7 linked regions of the Homo sapiens genome follow. The protein of the gene in region 4 purifies or fractionates together with the protein of the main gene of each other region. This does not show direct contact. Each region holds a gene or a part of one and is shown on either strand. Other genes may lie near its edges.

Evidence for each region.
Region 1: the proteins of CHAF1B (region 4) and DEDD purify together in Homo sapiens (affinity purification with mass spectrometry; one large-scale study listed by BioGRID and IntAct). This does not show direct contact.
Region 2: the proteins of CHAF1B (region 4) and SMARCA1 purify together in Homo sapiens (affinity purification with mass spectrometry, with the first as the bait; one large-scale study listed by BioGRID). This does not show direct contact.
Region 3: the proteins of CHAF1B (region 4) and SCAI purify together in Homo sapiens (affinity purification with mass spectrometry, with the first as the bait; one large-scale study listed by BioGRID). This does not show direct contact.
Region 5: the proteins of CHAF1B (region 4) and ADNP2 purify together in Homo sapiens (affinity purification with mass spectrometry, with the first as the bait; one large-scale study listed by BioGRID). This does not show direct contact.
Region 6: the proteins of CHAF1B (region 4) and LIN9 purify together in Homo sapiens (affinity purification with mass spectrometry, with the first as the bait; one large-scale study listed by BioGRID). This does not show direct contact.
Region 7: the proteins of CHAF1B (region 4) and BRMS1L purify together in Homo sapiens (affinity purification with mass spectrometry, with the first as the bait; one large-scale study listed by BioGRID). This does not show direct contact.

What each region holds. Positions count from the first base shown.
Region 1 is NC_000001.11:161,129,868-161,133,966, forward strand, and holds the start of DEDD (death effector domain-containing protein), read right to left. Parts: upstream 2,801-4,099; 5' UTR 2,684-2,800; intron 2,580-2,683; exon of another isoform or gene 2,524-2,579; intron 981-2,523; 5' UTR 948-980; intron 1-947. UniProt on the Homo sapiens protein: A scaffold protein that directs CASP3 to certain substrates and facilitates their ordered degradation during apoptosis. May also play a role in mediating CASP3 cleavage of KRT18. Regulates degradation of intermediate filaments during apoptosis.
Region 2 is NC_000023.11:129,516,991-129,520,490, forward strand, and holds part of SMARCA1 (SWI/SNF-related matrix-associated actin-dependent regulator of chromatin subfamily A member 1), read right to left. Parts: intron 1,658-3,500; exon of another isoform or gene 1,586-1,657; intron 1,458-1,585; coding exon 1,371-1,457; intron 1-1,370.
Region 3 is NC_000009.12:125,000,529-125,004,028, reverse strand, and holds part of SCAI (protein SCAI), read left to right. Parts: intron 1-458; coding exon 459-560; intron 561-813; coding exon 814-915; intron 916-1,985; coding exon 1,986-2,064; intron 2,065-3,500. UniProt on the Homo sapiens protein: Tumor suppressor which functions to suppress MRTFA-induced SRF transcriptional activity. May function in the RHOA-DIAPH1 signal transduction pathway and regulate cell migration through transcriptional regulation of ITGB1.
Region 4 is NC_000021.9:36,405,892-36,409,391, reverse strand, and holds part of CHAF1B (chromatin assembly factor 1 subunit B), read right to left. Parts: intron 632-3,500; coding exon 562-631; intron 19-561; coding exon 1-18. UniProt on the Homo sapiens protein: Acts as a component of the histone chaperone complex chromatin assembly factor 1 (CAF-1), which assembles histone octamers onto DNA during replication and repair.
Region 5 is NC_000018.10:80,126,262-80,129,761, reverse strand, and holds part of ADNP2 (activity-dependent neuroprotector homeobox protein 2), read right to left. Parts: intron 1-3,500. UniProt on the Homo sapiens protein: May be involved in transcriptional regulation. May play a role in neuronal function; perhaps involved in protection of brain tissues from oxidative stress. May be involved in erythroid differentiation.
Region 6 is NC_000001.11:226,288,665-226,292,164, forward strand, and holds part of LIN9 (protein lin-9 homolog), read right to left. Parts: intron 1-3,500. UniProt on the Homo sapiens protein: Acts as a tumor suppressor. Inhibits DNA synthesis. Its ability to inhibit oncogenic transformation is mediated through its association with RB1. Plays a role in the expression of genes required for the G1/S transition.
Region 7 is NC_000014.9:35,860,838-35,864,337, forward strand, and holds part of BRMS1L (breast cancer metastasis-suppressor 1-like protein), read left to right. Parts: intron 1-1,752; coding exon 1,753-1,849; intron 1,850-3,032; coding exon 3,033-3,116; intron 3,117-3,500. UniProt on the Homo sapiens protein: Involved in the histone deacetylase (HDAC1)-dependent transcriptional repression activity. When overexpressed in lung cancer cell line that lacks p53/TP53 expression, inhibits cell growth.

The sequences.
Region 1 (4,099 bases), on a different chromosome or scaffold from region 4:
CCTACAGTTTCCCAAGAATAATTGATTCTGAGGAATTGTTGTATTTCCTGGAGTTTTGCTTTTTTCTTTAGAGAAGTCCAAGTCAGCCAAGGGCCAACAGTCTATAGGTATCTTCAGGATTTCCTCCTGATTGGTCCTTCTCTACTATGTTTCTACTTCCAAGCAAAGTCTGGTCTCATCCCAACCAGGAATATCTGTAGTTTTTGAGGTACTTGGCTCTCTCAGAAGCCCTTAGGGGAAAGCGACATGAAAGAAATAAAAAAGAGTGCTGTCTTGAAATGAAAATGACAGTCATCTTTTCTGAACAGGGATGATATTTGTAATTTCATAGAATTAAGAGATATCTGACTCTCTCAGAAGTCCTCAGAGGAAAAGTCATGCAGAAGAACTACAAAAAAAAGTGGTATCTTGAAACTTAAATTAAAACTACATAGAAAATCTTAAAGATGGTTAAGAGTACATTCTTGCTGGTGGGATAGGAAATGTAATCAAATATCTGGAAGTCAGAATTACATAGTATGTTTTCAAAAGAAGGATGCCAGGAACCCCCCAACAGCTGAAAGAGAAAGTTAGAGGAAAAGTTTCCCACGGAAGGAAGGTGTCCCAGCAACCCTCCAAGGGCAACATTTAGTAGACAATGTACTAGAATACAGCCTTCCATATGTTAAAAAAAAAAAATGTTTCAGAGCTGACCAAGAAGACTAGACAATAACAAACCAAAGCTGGGGGATTGTCCCAAGACATCTAAATCTCCTTCTCTTTCACCTCCTATCTCCAATTAACTAAAGACAGTGATTACAACAGATCTCATGCACTCAGATGGATGAATGATAACTCATTTTCCCTGGCATTCTCCTCCTCATTAATGGACCCAACCTCAAAATAACTCCCATGCTATTTCCATTCCCTTCCATTGTTTGAAAACAATAAAAAAGTTCCAGACTTACCTCCGCAAGAAACTTAATTTCCCAGGTCTCTTCCTAGCACAAGTTTCACAGCCAGCAGCAAAACAAAAACAAATAAGGAGGGGAAAATAATTAATTTTCAAGTTTTACTTTGAAACCTCAGAGGCCCATAGAATTAGACAATCTCGTTGCAAAAGTACACAGACAAGCCTAAAACCATTTAGAGAACTCACCCCCAACAAGTCTCCAGGCTTCCCTAACTCTCTATTAGTCAATTTACAAAAACAATACCAACTCCAAGAATTTCCAGTCTCAATGGCTTGCGGCAAGACAGCTCCCAAATTTAAGAACTTCTGGGAAAACCAATTACCCTCTGGCAGCTTCTCATCTTCCTCCACAATTCCTTATTCCTATTTTGTTACAATATTAACGTTAACTTTCACCTTTAGAAAAAACTGGGAGGAAAGTGGTTACAGCAGACCAGCACTATCCTCCAAATTCTACATTTGGCCCTTTCCCTTAACTAGCACACAATGAGAACAAAATATCTAATGGCGCAGCATCCACTCATACGTCTATGTTTCACCAGGGAAAAGTTTTTCTACATACAGTATCCATGTTACCCCCTCCCTTCCAGACTTAAAACAGCAAAAGGGTCTGGAAACTACAGCACTCATTTAATTAACCTGTCTAGATGCCACTCTATCTTTTCTCTTTCCCTCCTCAGACTTCCAGAGCCTCCACCTTAGCATATAGGGTTCCAATATAGCCATGTCTGCTCCCCCACTCTTGTATTGCTAATGCTAAAAACTAGAAAAGTCCTTTGCTCCTCCACACTTGGGCGACACCGGCTTCCCCATTTTCCCAAGCAGGAAAAACAAGGGAACAGTAAGCTAGGGAGTCTTTTGGAAAACAAACCCAGTTGAATTCTCATCCAACCCCAATTCTGCAAACCCACATGACCATTCCCTTCTGCCCTTCCCACCCTCTTAAAAGCTAAGGGCCTGGCAATTAGAATTGGCTGCAACTGATGCTGCTTAACTCTGTTCTCTCCTCCTCTCCACCGGGGAAAGGGAAACCCCCGAACCTCTATCACCCGTGCAGCTCCACTGTCCTATCTCCCATTCCACTCCCCTTCCTCCCAAACTTTCTTCCTCCCAGTCTCTCACTTTCTCCATTACCTCCTCCCACCGACACTCTCTCCATTCCCCAAGCCTCCGTTCTCTCCTTTTCCACCCAAATTCTCCCCTAGGCCCTTCCCCCTCCCACCTCCAATTTAACACTTTCGAAGCCCCCCAGAAACGTCTTAACTCCAATTCTGACCTTTACCCACCTCCTCGCAACACCCCTCATCAGAGTCCAGTCCTCCCTCCAACCACATGCCACAGCCCCCTTCCCCTTCACACCCTCAGCCTCTCCCTCCTGCTCCTACCCCCTTCAATACGAGCGGATCGCAGCCCCACTCCCCACCTCGGCCTCTCTAATACCCCTGGCTGGGCCCAGTCTCAGCCCTTGTTTACGCCCCTCCCCATGCCCTCACTCCTCCGTCTCGACCCCTGCCCTCTCCCGCAGTTGCCATCTCCCCTGCACGCCCCCCTCGGCAGCTCCCCTCCCCCACCTCTCAGCGTCCCGTCACCTCCCTCTCTTGAGGTTCTCAGGCTGGACGTCGCCACCGCCTCCCCCTCCACTTTCCTTCCCCAAGCCCTTTGCGGCCCCGCCCGGCCCCGCCCCGTCCCGCTCGACTCCCTCTCCCCACTCCGGCCGCCCCTCCGCCTCACTCTCGGCTCAGGCTCGGCGCCGCCATGTTGGATCCATCCGCGCCGCTCTCCCGGGCCTGCCTCACGGCGCCGCATCCGGGCTCCAGCAGCCGCCGCCGCCGCCGCCGCCGCGGCCGTGGGGGAGGGGACAGGCGGGCGGGGGTGGCTGCATCCTGAACGGCGCCTCCCGGAACCCGGCCGGTTAGTGGCGGCTTCGAGGCCATAGTGAGACATGAGCCGGAGTAGCCATAGTAAGTGAGGGCAGCCTGGCAGCGGCATTAATCGGGGAGTGGATAGCTTCACTTCGGGAGGAGAGATAGAGATTGGCAGCCATCTTGCTTTGGGGCAAGCTGGCAACGCCGGTTTGTCTTGACGGCTGCTTAGGGCGGTAATAAGGGATCGAAGAGGATAGCATTCTTGAATGGGAAACATTGGTGGCGCCACAGCTGGCTGGTGGCGACTTCAAGACCCACTGGAAGGCTGGGATTGGCAGCCATGACTCATAAGGGCGGAATACCACGGGGATCGGTTTGTCTGGCGAACTTGAGTGAAGGGTCAAGATCTGGATTTCACCTTTCCTCTGAGCTTCCTGATAACCCGGACGTTCCGTAAACCCGGATCCGGAGCCGAAAGTGGTGCCCAGATCCCGTCTCGGAATTCATTTGTTCAGCATTTACCTTTTGAACGCCGGTTTCCTGTAGGAAGTGTCGCCTAGCTGATCCGTGTAGGGCTGTTGGGAATTGGGGGTGGGGAGGATGGTGCGGGTACGTTCTGGTGTGGCTTAAGAAAGTGGTAATAGATAGGGGAAGACCAGATTATGCGAAGCCTTGTAAATTAATTGATTTTTATCCTTAAGGCAATGAAAAGTCTTTGAAGAATCTCAGCAGAGGTGTGAACAATTTCATTTGCATTTTAGATCGCTGCGTGCAGTGTGAAGGATGAATGAATTGAGGAGAATCAAGGAGAGCAGTTGTGAGGCTCTTTTCCAGGCAAGGATGATGATGGTCTGCCTGTGGAAGGGAGAGTGCGGATGGGGAGATACAGATTGGTTTAAGAGGTACGAATGTTGTGACTTGGACAACTGGGGAATAATGATACCAGTTTCTTTCTCGTTTAGGGGGGAGATAATGAGTTTTAGGTGCCCCTGGGATATTAGCTAATGTGGGTTGGGAACTCAAAAGAAAGGTTTGAGGTGTGTGTGCGTGTGCATATAGATAGCTGTTGAAGCCATGAAGTGGGCTGGAGAGGATACCTGCATTTGCGGGATAGGATGAGGGAAGCCGAAAAGAACACTGAGAAGGGGCAAACCGAAAGGAAAGAAGAAAACCATAGAGAACTATCAAGGAAACTGGTGAAAGCGTTTAGTGTAACAGAGATATAGTAAAATGCTAACTAAAATATATACATCAGGGCCGGGCATGGTGACTCACACCTGTA
Region 2 (3,500 bases), on a different chromosome or scaffold from region 4:
CTTAAATCTTAAAATACAGTATCATCTTGTCTCAAAATATTTTCAGTGTCATGGTATAGTAATGTAATAAACACTCCTCTCTTCACTCACAGGGATCTAGAAAACTGTATTTTGTGCTAGTAGCGTATAAACTTTCTCCCCAAAGTAAGCAGAATTTGGGAAAAATATATAAACATATGCACATATATGTGAAATAGTTTATTAACTATTAAAAGTTGATATGTATTCTAATTTCTCAATAAATTGTAAAAGGTCAGGGAACGTGTACCATATACAGGCAATAAAACTTTGTTTCACTAAAAAAATCTTAAAAGATCAAAAGATATATACATCATTCTAGATAAAGGAAAAAATAAAGACTATTTATTTATTCAAAGTCACTTTCCAACCACAGAGTAGAGAATACTTGATTGCTAATGAAGGATGCATAATTAATAACCCAGAAAACTTACAGAAGAGTTCATTAACATAAACATAAGAGTTAGATAAATTCAGACTACAAGCTGGAAGGAGGCCAAAAACTTTCCATTTTATATTATCCTCACTGGAATGTTATTTTTAGAGTTGTTAAAACATTGCCTACCTACATTAGATGTGGCCTTAAACATTAAGTCTTATAAAATAGCTATCAACAACCAAAAAATATATTTCATCTATACTTATTTTTATAATATTACTGCAAAAACAACCCCTCAGAGGAAAAAAAAATCCATTTCAACCACCTGTTAAATTCTTGAAAGATCCAAGGTTATAAGAGTTTAGTTAAAATTAAAGCTAAAATATGTATTTTAGTAACTAAAAATTAAATAATTAAATGTATTATAGCAAGCAATATGTAAGTATAACTAAGATTATGCTGCTTAAATATGTGATATCTTCATGCATTGGACAAATATTCTTCCCTTTAAAGTGTATTGACATATTACACATTTCATTAATGTGTAGCATTTATTCATATGTCCAAAGAAGGAGAAAGAAACAAAAATACGTCAATCTGGCTTTGTGACTGGATTTCTCTCAGGTCACAAAGCCACAGTGGTATTACCACTGATATTTTCACCTCATAAATAAATATTTCTAGCTTAAAGCACTTTATTATGGGACAGAGAGCACCGAACCAAAATGAGATGTGACTTCTAGTCCTAACTATGACATATAGCTTCCCTGATCCTTTATTTCCTCATCTGAAAATGAGGAGGTTAATTTATTCAACAGAAAATATTGTGATAGATTGTATATTAAATTATTTTCCAATTCTAAAATCAATGATTCTCTATGCATTATATATATACATGTATTTTTTCATCTTTAACATCTCAACTATAAAAATTAATTACAGCATTCACTATCCTATCCAAGACTACATTTACCATTTTCTCTTCATATTCTGGGTCCATTTCCTTTTCAGATTTAGGCGCTTTAGCAGCAAGTTTGAGTTGAAATGAAGAAACGTTTTTCTAGAATTTCAAAGAAAATAAATGTCACCAAATTGCAAAGCAAGGTTCTTAAACTGGTCAATGCTCTCATTAGAAGAAGGCGGAAAGTAATTACATAACTAAATATATAAATCAATGTGGGACATGTATGGACCAATGATGAGAGCATGTCACAAAACAAGGCTTATGATTAATCCAGTTCTGTACACCTGAGGTCCAATAAAAAAAATCTGAAAAATTGTGAATGCCAAAGAAATATTAATTGGAATAAAACCCAAAAGGCAAGACACTGAGCTTTCTCATCCATTCTTTAATTTATAGTGTAAGAAAATGTGTAAACATTAAATAAGAGATTTTAAAATCTAGAAAAGGCTAATATCAACCACAAACCAAATAATTCAAAGAAAGTAAATATTAATTCTAAGAAACACTCCTTTATGTCATGGAAATACGCCACACTTTCAGAAAAAAAAACTGTGGTTTCTGTTCCTAAAACGATATTTTTAAAATTGTTTTCATAGTATTATAAGAATATTTAATTTTTTATGTAATGCAATGTGATCACATATACTTAATATAATAGTACAGTTTTAAACTTTTGGCTTATGTTAATTTTCTCTAACTGGGAAGAAAACTACTTTAAACTATTTATATTGCATAAACATCTTGTAGAAGCAATTTGTCAAGGCTACTTAACTATTAATGTTTGATATTTTTAAATTGTAATTTAGCGAAAACTAACATCAATCAATAACTTAATATAGAGATTATCTGGGGAAGGGGGTTATCTCATGCACCCTATCCTTTGTAAAGACAAGCCTGTACTGGCAAATATAAATACATATATAGAATAAGCCTCCTTCCCTATAAGAAACCAAGAAATAAAATAATAAAAACACAAATCTACCCACCAGAACCAAAGATGAGAGCATTTCAGTTTTAACACATACTTTGCATAAGAGAAAACACAAATTTGTTCGTGAAAACTATCATGGCTTTTGTCAACCTATTTATGAAAACTTAGGTCAAAAATCAACAGAATGTGACCTTAAACATAAGAAAAATATGGCCCCCATTATGTCTTCCAATATTTACTAAAATTTCTATTTTGAGGAAATCCAAACTGAGATTATGGAATTTGACCTTGTCCAGACTCTTACTTTGTAGCACTGATCAGATATCATTCAGTTACACTAACCCAAATAATAACCATCTTGATTTACAGCATCTGATACGTACACATCTATATGGAATGTTTTGAATGTAATCCTGGATGGATGAGAATAGAAAACTGCTAAAGAGCCCCTCAAACTCACACTTTCAGACTGCCATATATAATATAAATCATATTTATTTTCAAAGCAACAAGAAAAATTGGGTATCAAATCCATACGTTTATCATTCATTCCTTGAAAGGTTATATGAAGTGCAGTTTTCCAGTATCAAAACAATGAAAATTACTTTGCCTCATACGCACAAATATATATAATAATGTGGGAAGTACACTTACAGAAAATTAAAGCTTTAATCCTAGAAAAACATTTTACCCATTACTTTTTTGCTTACCTTGCGGTAGACTACCATCAAAATCTAATTATATGCTAATTAAAATCCTAATCTTGAGCAGGGCTATTAAAAGCTGTGGGTAATTACTTAATTGGCACTATCTTCCACAACAAATTTTAAAATACCTACCTTCTAAACCTTCTCTCGTGTGTGTGTGTGTGTGTGTGTGTGTGTGTGTGTATTCTCAAAACTACATTTTTTTCATACAAGAAAAGATGAAAAGTGACTAAGAGACTCTAATGAATTCCTTTGGATTTTGTTATCTGAGTCTAGGTGCCATGAGAATGCAGCACAAGGTCAACAAAATGGCTTGTTTTAAAGACCATGACCTTTTTCTTGACGTTTTCATGTCTACAGTGTTGGGTAATCCAACCGTCACTTAAACCAACTAAATTCAACAACCAGAAAGTAAGCAAAAACACCTTTGAGTAGGTAAATGTCACAGGTCAATTCACTAATTCTCATCTACTGTATTCATCATGAAAGCGCTCTCATTCA
Region 3 (3,500 bases), on a different chromosome or scaffold from region 4:
AATTTTTGTATTTTTAGTAGAGATGGGGTTTCACCATGTTGGCCAGGCTGGTCTCGAACTCCTGACCTCAGGTGATCCACCTGCCTTGGCCTCCCAAAGTGCTGGGATTATAGGCGTGAGTCACCATGCATGGCCCCCTGTGTTTCTGTAACTACTTAAAAAAACAAAACCTGAGGAAGTTTATTGATTAGTAAACATGTATATGGCTGGAGAGGTATGTGAAAAAGCAAATATAAAAAATGCTTATTATAGGATCTAGATGATGAACATATGGATGTCACTGTAGAATTCTTCCAGTCTTTCCATCGCTTGAAAATTTCTGTAACGAAATATTAGAGAAAAAGGTACCCAAAGCCCTGAAGTACATGTGAAAGTCACAACTAGTAACGTGATAAAAGTCTTTAAAGTCTGCGTGTTGCATTAAGGCTAGGTTGTGTTTGTTTTTTTTTTTCTTGCAGGTTAAGTTCAGTGAACTAACTGTTGACATGTTCCGGATGTTACAAGCTCTGGAAAGGGAGCCAATGAATTTAGCTTCCCAGATGAATAAACCAGGAATGCAGGTAATCTCCTCTTTTACATTTGCAAGTTTGGTAACCCTCTGGCTGCGTCTCTCCTGTTGGAACGCTGATTATTCAACAGATACTACAGCCTTGAATAAAGAATTCACTTGATGAGACATGGAGAAATAGATCATCACAGTAAGACTGAGTGTGAAAATAAGACTTCCTTGATAAGGGCTAGTGAAAATAGATATTGATAATTCATTTGTCAAATGCAGCTTTTATGTATAATGTTTTCTGTGTGTAAATATAGGAATCAGCTGACAAGCCTACTAGACGAGAAAACCCCCACAAGTATCTGCTCTACAAACCAACCTTCAGCCAGCTATATACCTTCTTAGCAGCGTCTTTTAAGGTATGTGTGATCCAGTACTTTTTACTATGAGGTGAAAGTGTGCCCTAACTAAAATCTAAGAGTCACTCTTTTGAAAAAATACTTAAGAGTTTAGGTAAAATATAAAAATGAAAAACTGCCTTTAGAGTAATGATCCTGATAATAGATATTTTTGTTTTGTTTTGTTTCTTTTTTTTTTTTTGTACTCCTGGTAAGCTGTGAAATAGCTGTTTGGGAATGAAAATTGCTTATGATGTTGTGATTATTCCCATCATTAATTAATGATAATAGTGGTTCTCCTTCCTCCAGTTTTTTATTACTCAATGATTTTAGGTGTAACAATGCAGAATTGGCCAGGCGTGGTGGCTCACTCCTGTAATCCCAGCACTTTGGGAGGCCAAGCCAGGTGGATCACCTGAGGTCGGGAGTTCAAGAACAGCTTGACCAACATGGAGAAACCCCATCTCTACTAAAAGAATACAAAATTAGCCGGGTGTGGTGGCACATGCCTGTAATCCCAGCTGCTTGGGAGGCTGAGGAAGGAGAATTACTTGAACCCGGGAGGCGGAGGCTGCGGTGAGCCGAGATCGCGCCATTGCACTCCAACCTGGGCAACAAGAGTGAAACTCTGTTTCAAAAAAAAAAACAGACTAAAAAACAAAAGCAGAGTGTCTAGGCTTCTTATATAGTCAAGGAGCTCTATGAAACATTTAGATCATCTGAAAGAACTGTGAGAAATAGGAGAATTCTTCCCAAAGTCTATGTAGAGAAAGCCACAGAAGGGACTTTGTCTTGTAGCCATGTAGTCAGGATCTTTACTTCTCCATTCAAGTTTTCGGAGAATATTCTCCAAATGATGGGGTTTTTGAAGCAGAGAATGTCTTTGCAACTTTTGACAATATAGATTAATAATGAATCTCTGCCGTGTGTATAGTTTTAAAGTCAGGACCAAGAAGAGCGTTTCTTCTCTTGGAAAAGACAACAGTGCATTCTTATTTATTTCACAACTTTAAGATGTCATGAACTTTAAATAAAACCATGTTGTTTATCCTTGTTTGTTGTTTTGTGTATGTGATTTTCTTTCATTTCAGGAGCTGCCTGCCAATAGCGTGCTTCTGATTTACCTGTCGGCCACTGGCGTTTTCCCCACAGGTCGTTCTGATAGTGAAGGTACAATAAAGGAATGCTCCCTGTTGTGAGCAGGGCTTGAATTCTCTTTATTTTCTACAAGACGATGGCCCGTAGCCCACAGACCATCTCAGCCTTTCTAGACAGACTTCCAAATTTGAAACCTGGTCTATTTGTTGATTGATAATTTTGTAGATACCCCAGTCTGTCATATTTTCTGAAATGTTATATGTCAAAGCCCATAAATCATCAGAAAATTCATATATTAAATGCTTGCTTCACTATCAAATGTATCAAAAGCATAATATGTAAATACATTTAGATATACATAAGGAGTTTGGTGTTTCAAAGTTGAAAAGGATGATGGAATAACCAAGCGTAATGATCTATTTCACATCATTGAATTTTTCTGAGCTTTCAGTGCATTGGGGAATCCGGTCAATGGCTACATGATGGCTGAAAGTCTTTGTAGAAATCAGTGTACTTTCGTAACTGTGAAAGTTCAAGCCCTTGTCATGATTTTGTTTTCTGTCCTTTATTTTGTTTTATGGATTCAATCTGTAGAATATCGGGATGCTGTTTCAGAATAAAAACGTAACACTGTCCAGAACATACCAGTCCAGAAATTGGTCAGAATAGATAAGTAACTTGGATGTAAATAAGATAATTAAATATTTGCCTGGGCAAAATAAAAAAATAAAAAAATTCTTAACATCCTTAACATTTTCCTCTTCATTTGTTTGTTGAAATTTGCATTCCTTTATAAAATGCATGTCCTTGCCATCTTCCTTGCATGACCTCCAGATTCTCTTAAAATGTTGAAATGAAAACAAATCTCTTTAGCCTTTTCATTGCAGTGATTTTTTTAAGAAGTGAAATATAATACAACATTAAAAGTAATGTAAAATCTTAAACTACTTTAGTTTTTTGTAATAATGTTAGTACTTTTATTTATAATTATCTGTATGTCTCATATACTGTTAAATCAAGTTTTCTTGGTTTCCGCTTAACATACTGACTTCTTTACTTTTTTCAAAGTATGATAGGTAATCGTACTTTGATAGGTCCTTTGAGAGAGATTATCTGAACATCCCACAGTTGCTGTTCCATTTGGACAAGAGTTTAGCTAATTCATATGAATTTAGTGGGAAAAGGCTAACTTCAGAACCAGAACTAAAGTGCTTGATACAATAGTGATAATAATGGATATTTGCACGCTGAAATCTGGCAATACATTCTTAAAGGTGAAGTTTTTGTGAATGAGAATTTTCAAATTCTATTCAAATATTTTTCTAAGTTTTACAGTTAGTGGCTCATTTAAAATTGTATTTACTTATGAGACTAAGATTTCATTCTTTAAAAAAAAAAAAGCTTATTTTATTCTGCAACTTCTTTTTTTTTTTCTGAGACAGGGTCTCACTCTGTCATGCAGACTGGAGTGCAATGGTGTGATCATAGTTCACTGCAGCCTGGGAATA
Region 4 (3,500 bases):
GGAAGATGAGCGATGGGCCTAATGGATTAATTGCAGTGTTAGGAAAAGGCACTGTGACTAAGCAAAAGCAAAAATAAAAGGTAAACATTTTGGCAGGGCGCGGTGGCTCACACCTATAAACCCAGCACTTTGGGAGGAGGAGGCAGGCGGATCACCTGAGGTCAGGAGTTCAAGACCAGCCTGGCCAACATGACGAAACCCCATCTCTACTAAAAAAAAAAAAAAAAAAAAAATACAAGCCGGGTGCAATGACTCATGCCTGTATTCCCAGCACTTTGGGAGGCCGAGGCAAGCGGACCACTTGAGGTCAGCAGTTTGAAACCAACCTGGCCAACATGGTGCAACCCCATCTCTACTAAAAATACAAAAATTAACTAGGAGTGGTGGCGGGCACCTGTAATCCCACCTACTCAAGAGGCTGAGGCAGGAGAATCACTTGAACCCGGGAGGCAGAGGTTGCAGTGAGCAGAGATCGCACCATTGCACTCCAGCCTGGGCAACAAGAGCGAAACTCCGTCTAAAAAAAATGTAAACATTTCAAACATTTCCTTGACTGCATACCTTTTAAGATTCTTCCTGGAGAAAACATAAGTGGTATTCATTACATTTTCACCAGATTCCACACATCCAGCTGGGGAACAGGGAAGGGAGGGAGAGGAAAGAAAAGTCACTGTTTCAGCAAACTGTTCACCAACAGAAACTCAAGAGCCTTCAGGTCCGGTTTGCAAAATACTTCCCCCTGCAGTTATATTCTCTGGACAATGTTGTGACAGAGCACAAAAACATATATTCCGGCACTGTCTGTTCTCAGCCCTTACTCCAGTTCTACCTACCTGTCATCTCCACCTACCTGTGGGCAATCCCCGGGGACCTGGTTCTGATCTTGGGCGAGGAGAACATAGTGAGCCTTTGCCATAGGGCACCGTTGAGCCTCCAGGCAATTCCTCGATTGAAGCACCGTGACTAGATTCAGCTGCCCAGGCTCCTTTCTCCCTAGGACCCTCATCTCTATTTCCTGGATTCCAGCCTTGGATGCCATCCAAAGGCTGAGACTCGCCTTTCCCCAACTTCCCTATCCAGCCATGAGGCTGCCAGGAGACCTTGCCCTCTGCTGAAACCTCCAGCCTCCTTCAGAACCTGACTTCACTCTGGGGAACAGTCCCCATCTGAGAGCTCTTCTACACTCACCCCCTGCTGTACTTAAAACAGTTCAGCCCTGTCAGAGTGACCATCATACACTGCTGCTCTTGGAAACATCTCCCTGTTTTATGCTATTTCTTGATACATATACACACACGTAACTTTACATATGACTGTTTCATATCCACCAGGGAGGGCAGTAGACAGTATCAATAGTCTTTTTTATTATTATTATTAATACATTCTACATAGCTGCCCTCTTTTTTTTTTCTTTGAGATGGAGTCTTGCTCTGTCACCCAGGCTGGAGTGCGATGGCGTGATCTTGGCTCACTGCAACCTCCACCTCCCAGATTCAAGCAATTCCCCTGCCTCAGCCTCCTGAGTAGCCGGGATTACAGGCACCTGCCACGATGCCCGGCTAATTTTTGTATTTTTAGTAGAGAGGGGGTTTCACCATGTTGGCCAGGGTGGTCTCGAACTCCTGACCTCAAGTGATCTGCCCTCCTCCGCCTCCCAAAGTGCTGGGATTACAGGCGTGAGTCACTGCACCCAGGCCCCTCTTTTCATCCCACTCCATTCTTCCATCCCCAAGAAATCCATTTTAACATTCAACAAACCATTATGTCATCTGTATATTTCCTCCATGCTCACATAATCATTACAATCAGTTATAACTCAATCACATGTATACCTCTATGATATTTTTTATTGAGTCCATTTGTTTTACAAAACTGACACTTCTCCTTATTTTGCTTGTTTCAATCAACTACTCATGAAAGTTAACTTGCATAGCACTGATGCATTATTTTTTTGTAGCTGCATAATATTTACTGCAAGATTCATTCACCCAGCCTCTGTTAATGAGTATTTTTTTGGCTTTTGGTTTTTTACCACTATAAACAATGCTTGCAATAAGCATCCTTGAACATATACTTTTTTTTTTTTTTTTTAGACAGAGTCTCACTCTGTTGCCCAGGCTAGAGTGCAGTGGTGCGATCTTGGCTCACTGCAACCTCTGCCTCCTGGGTTGGAGCGATTCTCCTGCCTCAGGCTCTTGAGTAGCTGGGATTACAGGTGTGCATCACCATGCCCGGCTAATTTTTGTATTTTTAGTAGAGACAGGGTTTTGCCATGTTGGCCAGGCTGGTCTTGAACTCCAGACCTCAGGTGATCCACCCACCTTGGCCTCCCAGAGTGCTGGGATTACAGGCTTGAGCCACCATGCCCAGCCAGTTTCCAGTCTTAATTGGGTCTTCTCCATTCCTAGAATGTCCTCCTATATTTCCTTACAAGAGTTTTCTATTTTTACCTTTTGTGTTTAAGTACTGAATTCACCTGGAATTTATTTTTTACATCTAGGCAAGGGGTCCAATTTTACCTTCTTCCACATAGCTGGCTACCCCAGCACTACTCATTCAATAATAGAGTCCTCCCTTTGCAAGATCCATCTCTTGTACAACATGGTGATTATGGTTCATAACAATGTATTATATTCCTGAAAAATGCTAAGAGATATAAAGCGTTCAAACCACAGAAATCCTAATTATGTGAGACCATGCTATGCTAATTAGCTAGATTTAGTCATTCCACAACATATATATACTTCAAAACATCATGTCATACACAACTACATACAATTTCATCTGTCAATTAAAAAAAAAAGGAGGCCAGGTGCAGTGGCTCACGCCTGTAATCCCAGCACTTTGGGAGGCTGAGGCGGGTGGATCACCTGAGATCAGAAGTTTGAGACCACCCTGGCCAACATGGTAAAACCTCATCTCTACTAAAAATACAAAAATTAGCTGGGCATGGTGGCCGGCGCCTGTAATCCCAGCTACTTGGGAGGCTGAGGCAGAAGAATCACTTGAACTCAGGAGATGGAGGTTGCAGTGAGCCAAGATCACGCCAATGCTCTCAAGCCTGGGCGACAAGGGTGAAACCCTCTCAAAAAAAAGAGGAATAGGTCTTTGTCCAATCTCAACACTTCCCAACCTTCTTAATGACATACTCTTGTCCTATCTGCCTTCAGTGTCTAATTCTCTTGAGAATTATTTAAGTAACATACAATTAATTACAAATAAATAATAGATTTTTTTCCACTGGAACAGCACCTGAGGTCATATATTAAATCGCCTTATATCCTGAGATCTTTTTCTGGATTCTGTGTTCTGGTCCACTAATCTATTTGTTTGGTCCTATAGCAACACCATATTGATTGGCTAAAAGTAGTGTTATAGGATCTTCTGATATGTGGTGAGGCAAATGCCCTCCCAAGTATCACTGTTTTTTTTTTAATACTTCTTTGGCTATTCTTCAGCATTTATTCTACTAAACAAAGCTGAGATTTCATCCAATTAAA
Region 5 (3,500 bases), on a different chromosome or scaffold from region 4:
ATGCACACAAAGACCAGACTGCCATCTATTGTATTGAAGCAACAAAATATGACTGGGGTCCCTGAAGTGACACAAGAAGCATAGAACATCATATATATTCTAGCCCAAAATGTTTAACTTGAATCAACTGGGCCTTTCAGTAGAACTTCTCATTTAAAAGAAGCTCAGGGGACAGGGGACTAAGCTGAAACAACACTATAAGAAAGTACCAGACACATCTGGAAGGAGGGGCATCTCTGCAGGACAAGAGGCTGGTCTGGCCAACAGTCAGGGAAAGCACTGCAAACCCAACCACTAGATGTAACAGGGTCCACAACAAATCCTGGCTTACATAAACCGAGTGTAAAAAATGTTCTGGGGGTCGGGTGTGGTGGCTCACACTTGTAATCCCAGCACTTTGGGAGGCTGAGGTGGCTGGATCATCTGAGGTCTGGAGTTTGAGACCAGCCTGGCCACATGGTGAAACCCCATCTCTACTAAAAATACAAAAACTAGCTGGGCGTGGTGGCGGGTGCTCGTAATCCCAGCTACATGGGAGGCTGAGGCAGGAGAATTGCTTGAACCAGGGAGGCAGAGCTTGCAGTGAGCCGAGATCTCACCACTGCACTGCAGCCTGGAAGACAGAGCGAGACCCCATCTCAAAAAAAAAAAAAAAACAAAAAAAAAGTTCTGGGTAAAACTGAAGAAATCTGAGTATGGACTGCATATTAAATAAGGTGAATATGTAATACATGACAAGACAGAACAGAGAAAAGTGAAAAAAGCAAGTGGTAAAATAGCTAATCAATACAATCTCATGGTAAGAACAATAAACACACAGAAACAGCTAACAATACGATGTTAATGGTGGCAACTTCTGAATGACAGAAATGTGGCATTTTAAATTTCATTTTCTAATTAGAAACGGTTACCTGCATTTTCAAACATTCATAGATTACAGTATTATTTTTATAACAATGATTACTTTAAAAAAAAAGCTACAGAAAAATAGTTAATACAATTACCTTTAACTCTACGCTAGTATGTAGCTTACCAAGTCAATTCAGAACTAACAAGAAAAAGACAAGTTATTACAAATATTTCTTTATTTTTATTTATTTATTTCTTTTTTTGAGACGGGGTCTTGCTCTGTCGCCCAGGCTGGAGTGCAGTGGTGCAATCTCGGCTCACTGCCGCCTCCACCTCCCGTGTTCAACCAATTCTCCTGCCTAAGCCTCCCCACTAGCTGGGACTACAGGCACATGCCACCACGTCGGGCTAATTTTTGTATTTTTAGTAGAGACGGGGTTTCACCATGTTGGCCAGGCTGGTCTCAATCTCCTGACCTCGTGATCCATCCACCTCGGCCTCCCAAAGTGCTGGGGTTACAGGTATGAGCCACCGCACCTGGCCAAGTTATTACAAAGATTTCTACTGAAAATTAGGTTATTTTCAGAACTATCTTAAAAGATAAAGTATACAACACACAGGTCCTTTATTCTGATTCCAACAAAGAGCAAACATATCTGAAACAAACAGAAATAAGCATAAACACTAGGAAACACAAAGGAACTGTCAGTACATCTTCAAAACCAGCACACACAAGAATCTAAGCCCAATTAAAAGATGCTGCTAGAGCAGCAGAAATGAATAAAGAAGGCTGGAATTAACAAGAGCCCCACAGTAATTATGAAGTCATTATCACCTGATAGAAAGCAAGAATTCACTATTTCAAAATAGACAAAAGAAGTAAGCTACTATTAAAAAGGGGCATCCTGCCATATTGACCTTGTGATAAATTTGCACAGGGTCTCCTGAAGACTTTTTCTGAGCACTGAGGCTCTCATGTGTGAGAAAACCAGTGGGACTTTTCTACTGGCTCACTAGTGGGAACTAGTGAAAGGAGAAGGTAAAACAACTATCAAAATGCCAGAGTCCACCGGGAGAGGGGAATGACCCCTTAATACAGTGACATAAGTCAAGCCTTCACAGCAAGGTCTGTCTCCACAGTCCCAGGCTCTCCAGACCCACTCTAGCAATGCTTAAAAATTCCAAGTGTCTTAAACATGTTCTAGAACAAAGCCCAAATATATTTAAAGGAAACAACAAACTCTAGCACCCATAAACACAATGTCCAGTGTGTAGTCAAAAACTGCCAGTCAAAAAACAAAAAACAAAAACTTCCAGTCATACAAAGCAGCAGAAAAATATGACCCCAAACCAGGAGAACAACATGAACGCAACGAGAGAAGTGAAAGAAAGTGAAAGATGGATGGTAAATTGCACTTCCATGAATGAAAAATGCACTAACATGAAAAATATACTGCATGGGATTAAGAGCAGATTAGATGCTGCCGAAGAAAAGACTGGTAAATCTGAAGATAAAGCAAGAGAAATACACAAAATGAAAGAGGGAATGGTTAAAAAAAAAAAAAAAAAAAAACTGAAAAAACCCCAACAACGGCATCAATGAGCTATGGGACAGTATCAAGGAGCCTAATATACAGGAGTCCCCCCTTATCTGCAAAGGACATGTTCCAAGACCCCAGTGGATGCTGACACTGTGGACAGTGCCAAACGCTACATATACTACGTTTTTTCCTATACAGACATACCTACAATAAAATACAACTTATAAATTAGATTTGGTACAGGAAGTTGGTACACGAAGATATTAACAACAATAATAAACTAGAACAATTGTAACAATATACAGTAATAAAAGTTTTGTGAATGTGGTCTCTCAAAGTATCTTACATCCTGTGCTCACCCTTCTTGTGGTGGCATGCGATGACACGATGCCTGTGTGGCGCCTCACGTGACAAGATGAAGACAACTCAGAATGCCATGGAACTTAAAACAGATGAATTGTTTATTTCTGGAATTTTCCATATAATATTTTCAAACCGTGGTTGACTGTGGAGAGCAAAACTGAGGATACGGGGGAACTACTGTGTGTGTAATTGAGTATCAGGGACAAACGGGTGAGGGGAAGAAAAACTAGTTGAAGAAATGATGCCACAAAATTTTCCAAATCTGATGAGAACTATAAACCCACAAAATCAAGAAGCTCACCAGACTCTAAGCAAAAGACACACAAAGAAAACCAAACCAAGGCACATTATAGTCAAAGTATTAAAAATACAGAGAGGAACAAAAATGACAGAAAACATATTGTTGGAAAAAATGCCAGCCAGAAGACAAGAGTGAAATCTTTAAAATATAAAAAGGGGAAAAAAATAGCATTCCACACCTAGCAAAAATCTCTTCCTTCCTAAAAGACAACTTTTTTTTAGAGAGAAAGTATAGTGAGTTAATTAAGCACATCAGCACTACAAAATATGAAGTCCTTCAGGAGGCAGAGGAAATGACTCGAGATGGAAATACACATCTACGCAAAGGGATGAAGACTATCATCAATGACATGTAGATCAATATAATTTTTTTCTTTTTTACAGTTTAAAATAAAAGTAACAACATATTGTAAGATTTCTAACATGTGGAAGAAAAAATGTATAACA
Region 6 (3,500 bases), on a different chromosome or scaffold from region 4:
CAGCACAAAAATGGACATAAACAAAAAAATTAAATATGTAGGAATATACTTACGAAACATGCAAGACTGATATGGAAAAAAATTAAGTCTACTGTGAAATACTATGAACTAAGTGGAACTACAATCAGTTCTTAGGTAGTCTCAATGTTACCTATATATATCATTTCCCATAAATTATAATATTAGTCCAATCCCAGTCAAAATGCCAACAGGATTTTTTTTTCCTAGTCAAGTTGATTCTAAAGTCTACATGGAAAAATAAATGCACAAAAATATTTAGGAAAAAATCTTATGCTGGGCGCAGTGGCTCACGCCTGTAATCCCAGCACTTTGGGAGACCGAGATGGGCGGATCACAAGGTCAGGAGCTCCAGACAGCCAGGCCAATATAGTGAAACCCCATCTCTACTAAAAATACAAAAATTAGCCGGGCGTGGTGGCTGTGCCTGTAGTGCCAGCTACTCAGGAGGCTGAGGCAGAAGACTAGCTTGAACCTGGGAGGCGGAGGTTGCAGTGAGCAGAGATCACACCACTGCACTCCAGCCTGGGCGACAGAGTGAGACTCCATGTCAAAAAAAAAGAAAGAAAAGGAAAAAAATCTCAAAAAAAGAATATGTGATAATATCTTACCAGGCATTAAAACACAGTATAAAGTCATGTTAAACCAATTTTGTGTGTGTGTGTGTGTGTGTGTTTTGGTTTTGTTTGTTCTTTTGAGACAGGGTCTCTCTCTCTGTCACTTAGGCTGAAGTGCAGTGGTGCAAACATTGCTCACTACAGCCTTGACCTCCTGGGCTCAAGCCATCCTCCCACCTGAACCTCCCAAGTAGCTGGGACTGCAGGCATGTGCCACCACACTGGGCTAATTCATGCATTTTTTGTGGAGACGGGCTCTCGCTATGTTACCAGGTTGGTCCCAAACTCCTGGGCTCAAGCGATCTTCCTGCCTCAGCCTCCCAAAGAGCTAGGATTACAGGTATGAGCTGCCATGCCCAGCCAAAATAATTTGATACTAGCACATATAGAGATATGCTAGATGTAGAGATAGAAAGCCTGAAAGTAATCCCAAATACTTATACGAATTTAGCTTTGATGAAGGCAGCATTTTAAATCAATGTTTAAAAAGATGGATTACCCAATAAATGTTACTAGGACAACTAAGTAGTCCTCCGGGGGGGGGGGTGGGGGGGGGTGGGAAAGCTAGGTTGCAATTTTACTTCATCCCTTACTGCAAAATAAATTCCAGATGTACTGAAGGTTCAAACCAAAAAAATGAAATATGAGAGAATTCTAAAATGATAAATTTTAGTGTAGAAAAGGTCTTTCTGAGCATGACAAACTCAAGAAGTCATTAAAAGGTAACAAAGTTACATTTGATCCTTAAAATATTTTAAAATCCCATATGTTAAAAAATACAGAAACAAATCAAAAGACAAACTATAAACTCTAAAAAAAATTACAGCCATTATAAACATCCAAAGGGCCAATATTTTTAATATATACAAAATTCTTATAAACTAGTAACACAATGACCCACAATCCAATAGAAAAATGGGAAAAAGGCATAAACAGTTTACAGAAAAGGAAAGAAATAATTTTTAAACATATGAAAAGTGTCTCAACTTTGCTCTTATATAAAATGCCAACTAAAACAAGTGAGAGGCTATTTCTTTTTTTTTTTTTTTTCTTTTTTTTGAGATGGAGTCTCGCTCTGTTGCCCAGGCTGGAGTGCAGTGGCACGATCTCGGCTCACTGCAAGCTCCACCTCCCGGGTTCACGCCATTCTCCTGTCTCAGCCTCCCGAGTAGCTGGGACTACAGGCGCCCGCCACCACGCCCGGCTAATTTTTTGTATTTTTTGTAGAGACGGGGTTTCACCGTGTTAGCCAGGGTGGTCTTGATCTCCTGACCTCGTGATCCGCCCACCTCGGCCTCCCAAAGTGCTGGGATTACAGGCGTAAGCCACCGCACCCGGCCAAGGCTATTTCTATATATCAGATTAGCAAAAATCTAGATGGTTGGTTCTGTACTGAGTTGGAGGCATTTGGAAAATAGGAACTCTAATATATATAAACCAGTACAATTTCTTTCCTTTTTTTAAAAAAATTTTTTAACACAGCGTCTTGCTCTGTCACCTAGGCTGCAGCATACTGACACGATCGCGGCTCACTGCAGCCTTCGCCTCCCAGGTTCAACCTATTCTCATGCCTCAGCCTCCCGAGTAGCTGGGACTACAGGCACGTGCCGCCACACCTGGCTAATTTTTCTATTTTTAGTAGAGATGGGGTTTTGCCATGTTGGCCAGGCTGGTCTTGAACTCCTGACCTCAGGTGATCTGCCCACCTCGGCCTCCCAAAGTGCTGCTATTACAGGTGTGAGCCACTGTGCATGGTCCCAGTTCAATTTATTCGGAGAGTATTTGGTACTGCTTTAAAAACTTTAAATGTACATAATTTACGATCCAGCAATTCCACATCTTAGGCATCTGTCCTAGAAAAAAACTTGCAAATTTATACAAACATGCTCAGGATGTTCACTGCAGCATTATTTGTCAAAGTAAAAATTTACGAACAATTTAAATGCTCCCAAATGGGAGAATTTATAAATAATGATATAAAATTGAATACTATTCAATAGTAAAAAGAAATGAAACACTGAATCCGATTATCTCAATCAATCAACATGGCCAGATCTCAAAAAAAGACAGTGAAAAAATTACAGAATGACACATGGCACAATACCATGAAAATGATACTACAAATGTAATTTTTAGAATACATACATTTAGAAAAAGAAAAAATATATATACATTTAACAATATTAAATATTTTCTATGAATACATTAAAAGTATATTTAAAAGGTTTCATAAGGATAATCAAACTAATTATAGTGGCTGCCACTGTATGAGGGAAGTACATATTGGAATGGTAAGTTAGGGTCAAAATTTTAAAATTTTTATTATAAACTTTGTATTTTGGAAAAGTTGTAGATTTACAGGCAAGTTGCAAAGATAGTACATATTCCCACATGCCCTTCACCTGGCTTTCCCTAACATCAATATCTTATAGTAACTTTGGTATATTTGTCAAAACTAGTGCAATACTATTAACTAAACTACAGGCTTTATTTGGATTTTACCAGTTTTTTCACCAACATCCTTTTTCTGTTCCAGAAACCAATTCAGGATACCACACTGCATTTAGAAAAATAACTTTGTTTTTCTTTGTTTTCCCTCAGTGACCATTCTCAGGAGAAAAAAAAAAATTAAATGTAAAAAGAAGAAAAAAGAAAAAATTTATAAGTGAGGAGATGTTTAGCATAAATAACCAAATTACTATAAAATATTCTTATCACAAAAAGTGTTATTTCTTTCTACTACATTATTGACCCAGATTTTTAAATAGGGTATATAGGGTATTAGCAGCTCATCGAATATAAAACTATATTAAGGACCCGCCTGTTGGGTATGGGAAAATAGATTCAAATTGTTAGAGGGAATCT
Region 7 (3,500 bases), on a different chromosome or scaffold from region 4:
GGGTTATTAGTGAGCAGGATCAGTAAGTCTAGATGTGAAGACTAGAGGGATGTGGGATCTTGAGACCAAACCTATACTTATGAGTAGTATTTTTTTAAAAACCAAAGTAACTATTGAACATAGAAAACTCCACAGCCACCAAAGCAAGAGAGTTAGCCCCCTTCTTTTCCAGGTATCTTCTAGCTGTTCCATTAGGGCTTCATTTTCCATTCAGGGGAGGTTTTTGAGTGTCTTGAGAAGCTGGAGAAAAGGGAGAGAACTTTCCAAGAAAAAGAAAGAGAAATAAGAATGAGAATGGATTCATGGCAGTTTAAAGTATACTTCTGATATTTTTAGAGATGCCTTCAATGCTTCAAACATTTCAGTTTCATTGTGGCTTTTTAAAAAATAATAAAGAATGATTAGTGGATTTTTAAAAGAATTTCTGCTTGGCCTAATTTGTCAATAGGAAGAAAAGAGAATACACCAATTAAATGTTCATATCCTTAACAGCAAAAGGCTTATCACTCCAGCTCTGTATTTAGAGTCATCTTTGGTTGGGGAGATTGGATCTATTTATAGCTGCTACCACGGTCTTGTGGAGGGGAACTGCTCTCCCTTTTTCTCTGATATTTTCCGAGTTTTGCAGCACAATATAGATAAAGCTGGAATATTTCATAAGACTTTACTAAAGGCAAGGGAACAAGCAAAAGGAAGTAAGCAGAGAGAACAGCATGCAATGAAACCATGTTTGATATGAAATCTAGTTTTAGTTTTCAGCTTTGCTTTCTCCTTAGCACCTGGCTTGCCTCAAGTTTGTAAGCCATCTTTTCCCTGACACTCAGGAAACCCTTCAAGCATGTATAATTTCTAAATTTCAGACTCAAGAGAGAGGGCTTCATGATTGACACCAGGAATGCAGCCTACATGGGTGTGGCCTGTGTTTTCTACATGTAGTCATATCCAACTATATCCCAATAGCTTCCGCAAGACAGTCATATCTGCTATATCCAATTATCTAATATCCTTCACTAGAGGTAAACATGTGGCCATAGGTTTTTTTGTGTAATTGATCTTTATATATTATGTACATTTTATGGCTTTTTAAATTAGGGCTACAGTATTATATAATTAAAAACATGGACTAGAGCTAGTAGACCTGGGTTCTAGTCTATTTGCCAGTCTTGTATGTTGTAGCAATTCAATCTGTCTATGGTTTTGTAGAAAGATTTGGATATGATTAGTCTGTAATTTTATAATTTAGACTATAATTGAATTATTTTAAATAATCATAAAATTTGTACTTGAATCTTTCTCTTTGCCTATTTTAATATGATGCTGAGATATTAGTGAGGCATAATGACCCAATTATTATTCCTGTGAGAAAATATGATCCATTTTATAATGATATACTTTATAGGATAAGTTTTCCATGATGGTGACAGATGGGACCTACTTAAATTTAAAAGGGGCCATAGGGGTTTGCTATGAGTTTTTTATAAAGTAAATATTTACCTCTAAATGTACATCAGACATAATTTAGATGCTCTTATACAGAATGTAATTGCATGTAGTTAAATCTATATATAGATTCTATATTTTCTAGTTTTATTTCTTTCATGTATTTGACATTTCTTCTTTAGAATTTTTAATTGAATTGAAAAAGCAAACCAAAGCATCATATATTAAAGTACTTTAAGTTATTTGGTACTCTTAGTTAAGATACACCAATTTTTTTCTTTCTACTTAAGTATAATCTGTTTTTCTCCCCAGAGCGAAAAGCTGTTGCTATATGATACAGTCCAGAGTGAACTAGAGGAGAAGATAAGAAGGCTTGAAGAGGATAGGCACAGCATTGATATTACCTCAGGTAAGGAGAATGATATGATTGTGATGTTTGAGTGGCACCAGACCTTTGGTTTACTGTAGTGTCATATCGTATCTCAGTCTTCTAATATTAATATTATGTAAATGAAATGTCCCAGCAAAGGAGAAAAGGGGAAGAACTCTAAAGTGATGGTGATTATATTGTTATTGTTATTTGAATTCACACTTTAGAAAGATGTAAAAAATGGAGCACACGACAAGGGACGAAACAGAAGTATGACAGGAACCTACTGGCAGAATAGTGTCAGGGCTGGATGTGGTGCTGCACATCTATATCTACAGTCCCAGCTATGCAGGAGACTGAGGCGGAAGCATCCTTTGATCCCAGGAGTTCGAGATTGCAATTGCAGTGAGCCATGATGGCGCCACTGCACTCCAGACTGGGCAATCTTGTCTCCAAAAAAAAAAAGAATAGTATTGGAAATTAGCTATAGTATATGTTTTTCCTTGTAAGTCTTGAAAGACTGTTATGTGGAAGAAGGAATGAAAACCTTTTTGACATCATACAAGGTAGGACAAACTGATAGAAGTTATAGGGAGGTAGATTTTTGTTTCAGAAAAAGGAATAACTTATTAATGATTAGATCAGTCCAGTGTGAAATTGGCTTTTTCAGGGTGTTACAGAAAGGTTTTTTGCATTGAGTGGAAGGTCTACTAGGTTATCCTACAGTTCTTGAGTATATATTACTTTATCTGTTATAAAGTTTAGTTCTCTATAGGGTAGGCATGGTGGAGTCAGATAAGCTGAGCTCTAGTGCCAGTGCTCCCTCACCTACTAGTCTGGTGACCATGGACAGTTACTTCACTTTTCTAAATCAATCTCCTTGTCTGTAAAAGGAAAGTAATAAGAATACCTACCTCAGTGGTAGCTTTGGGGATTAGGTGAGACAATGCATGTAATATACATTTTACAAAGTGCATGACAATATGGTAATCAGTTCTTAGTCATGAAGTGCCAAATTGATTTTTGCTTTAATAAAGGCAGAGCAAAACTTAAACACGTAGTGCTCATGAAATTATGTACAGCTTAATCTATATATACCCAGCTGCCAATGAAGTTTTTTACGTTTTTACATGTAACTAAATAGCCACCATAAAATTAGAGTCTTTTTTCCTCCTTTGTTCACCAGAAACCCACTAATACTTAATCTTTATTTACCTGCCAGAGCTGTGGAATGATGAGCTTCAGTCAAGAAAAAAGAGGAAGGATCCTTTCAGTCCTGACAAAAAGAAGCCAGTTGTTGTTTCAGATATCCTTTTCCAAATTTTCTGTTTTTTTTTCCTTGATGTGCGTTTTTCCATTGTGCATGCCTTTATAACTTTTATTTGTAAACACTGACTTTATTTGCATGATCCTGTAATAAGCAAAAGATGATTTATTTATAAAACCGATTGAAGACAGAGGATATAGTGTATACTTTAGGTCAGGAGAGGTGGCAGAGGAGAAGAAATTCAATCATGATCTCAACTTTGAAAATTAATGTGACTTGTCGTTCACCAAGGGCTTTGATGTGAAACAGTCGTTTAGTATACAGTATGATTGTTTAATTCTCATGTGTACTTTTTTTTTCTTTTTGAGACAGGGTCTCACTGTGCCACCTAGGCTGGAGTGCAGTGGCACAATCATGGCTCAC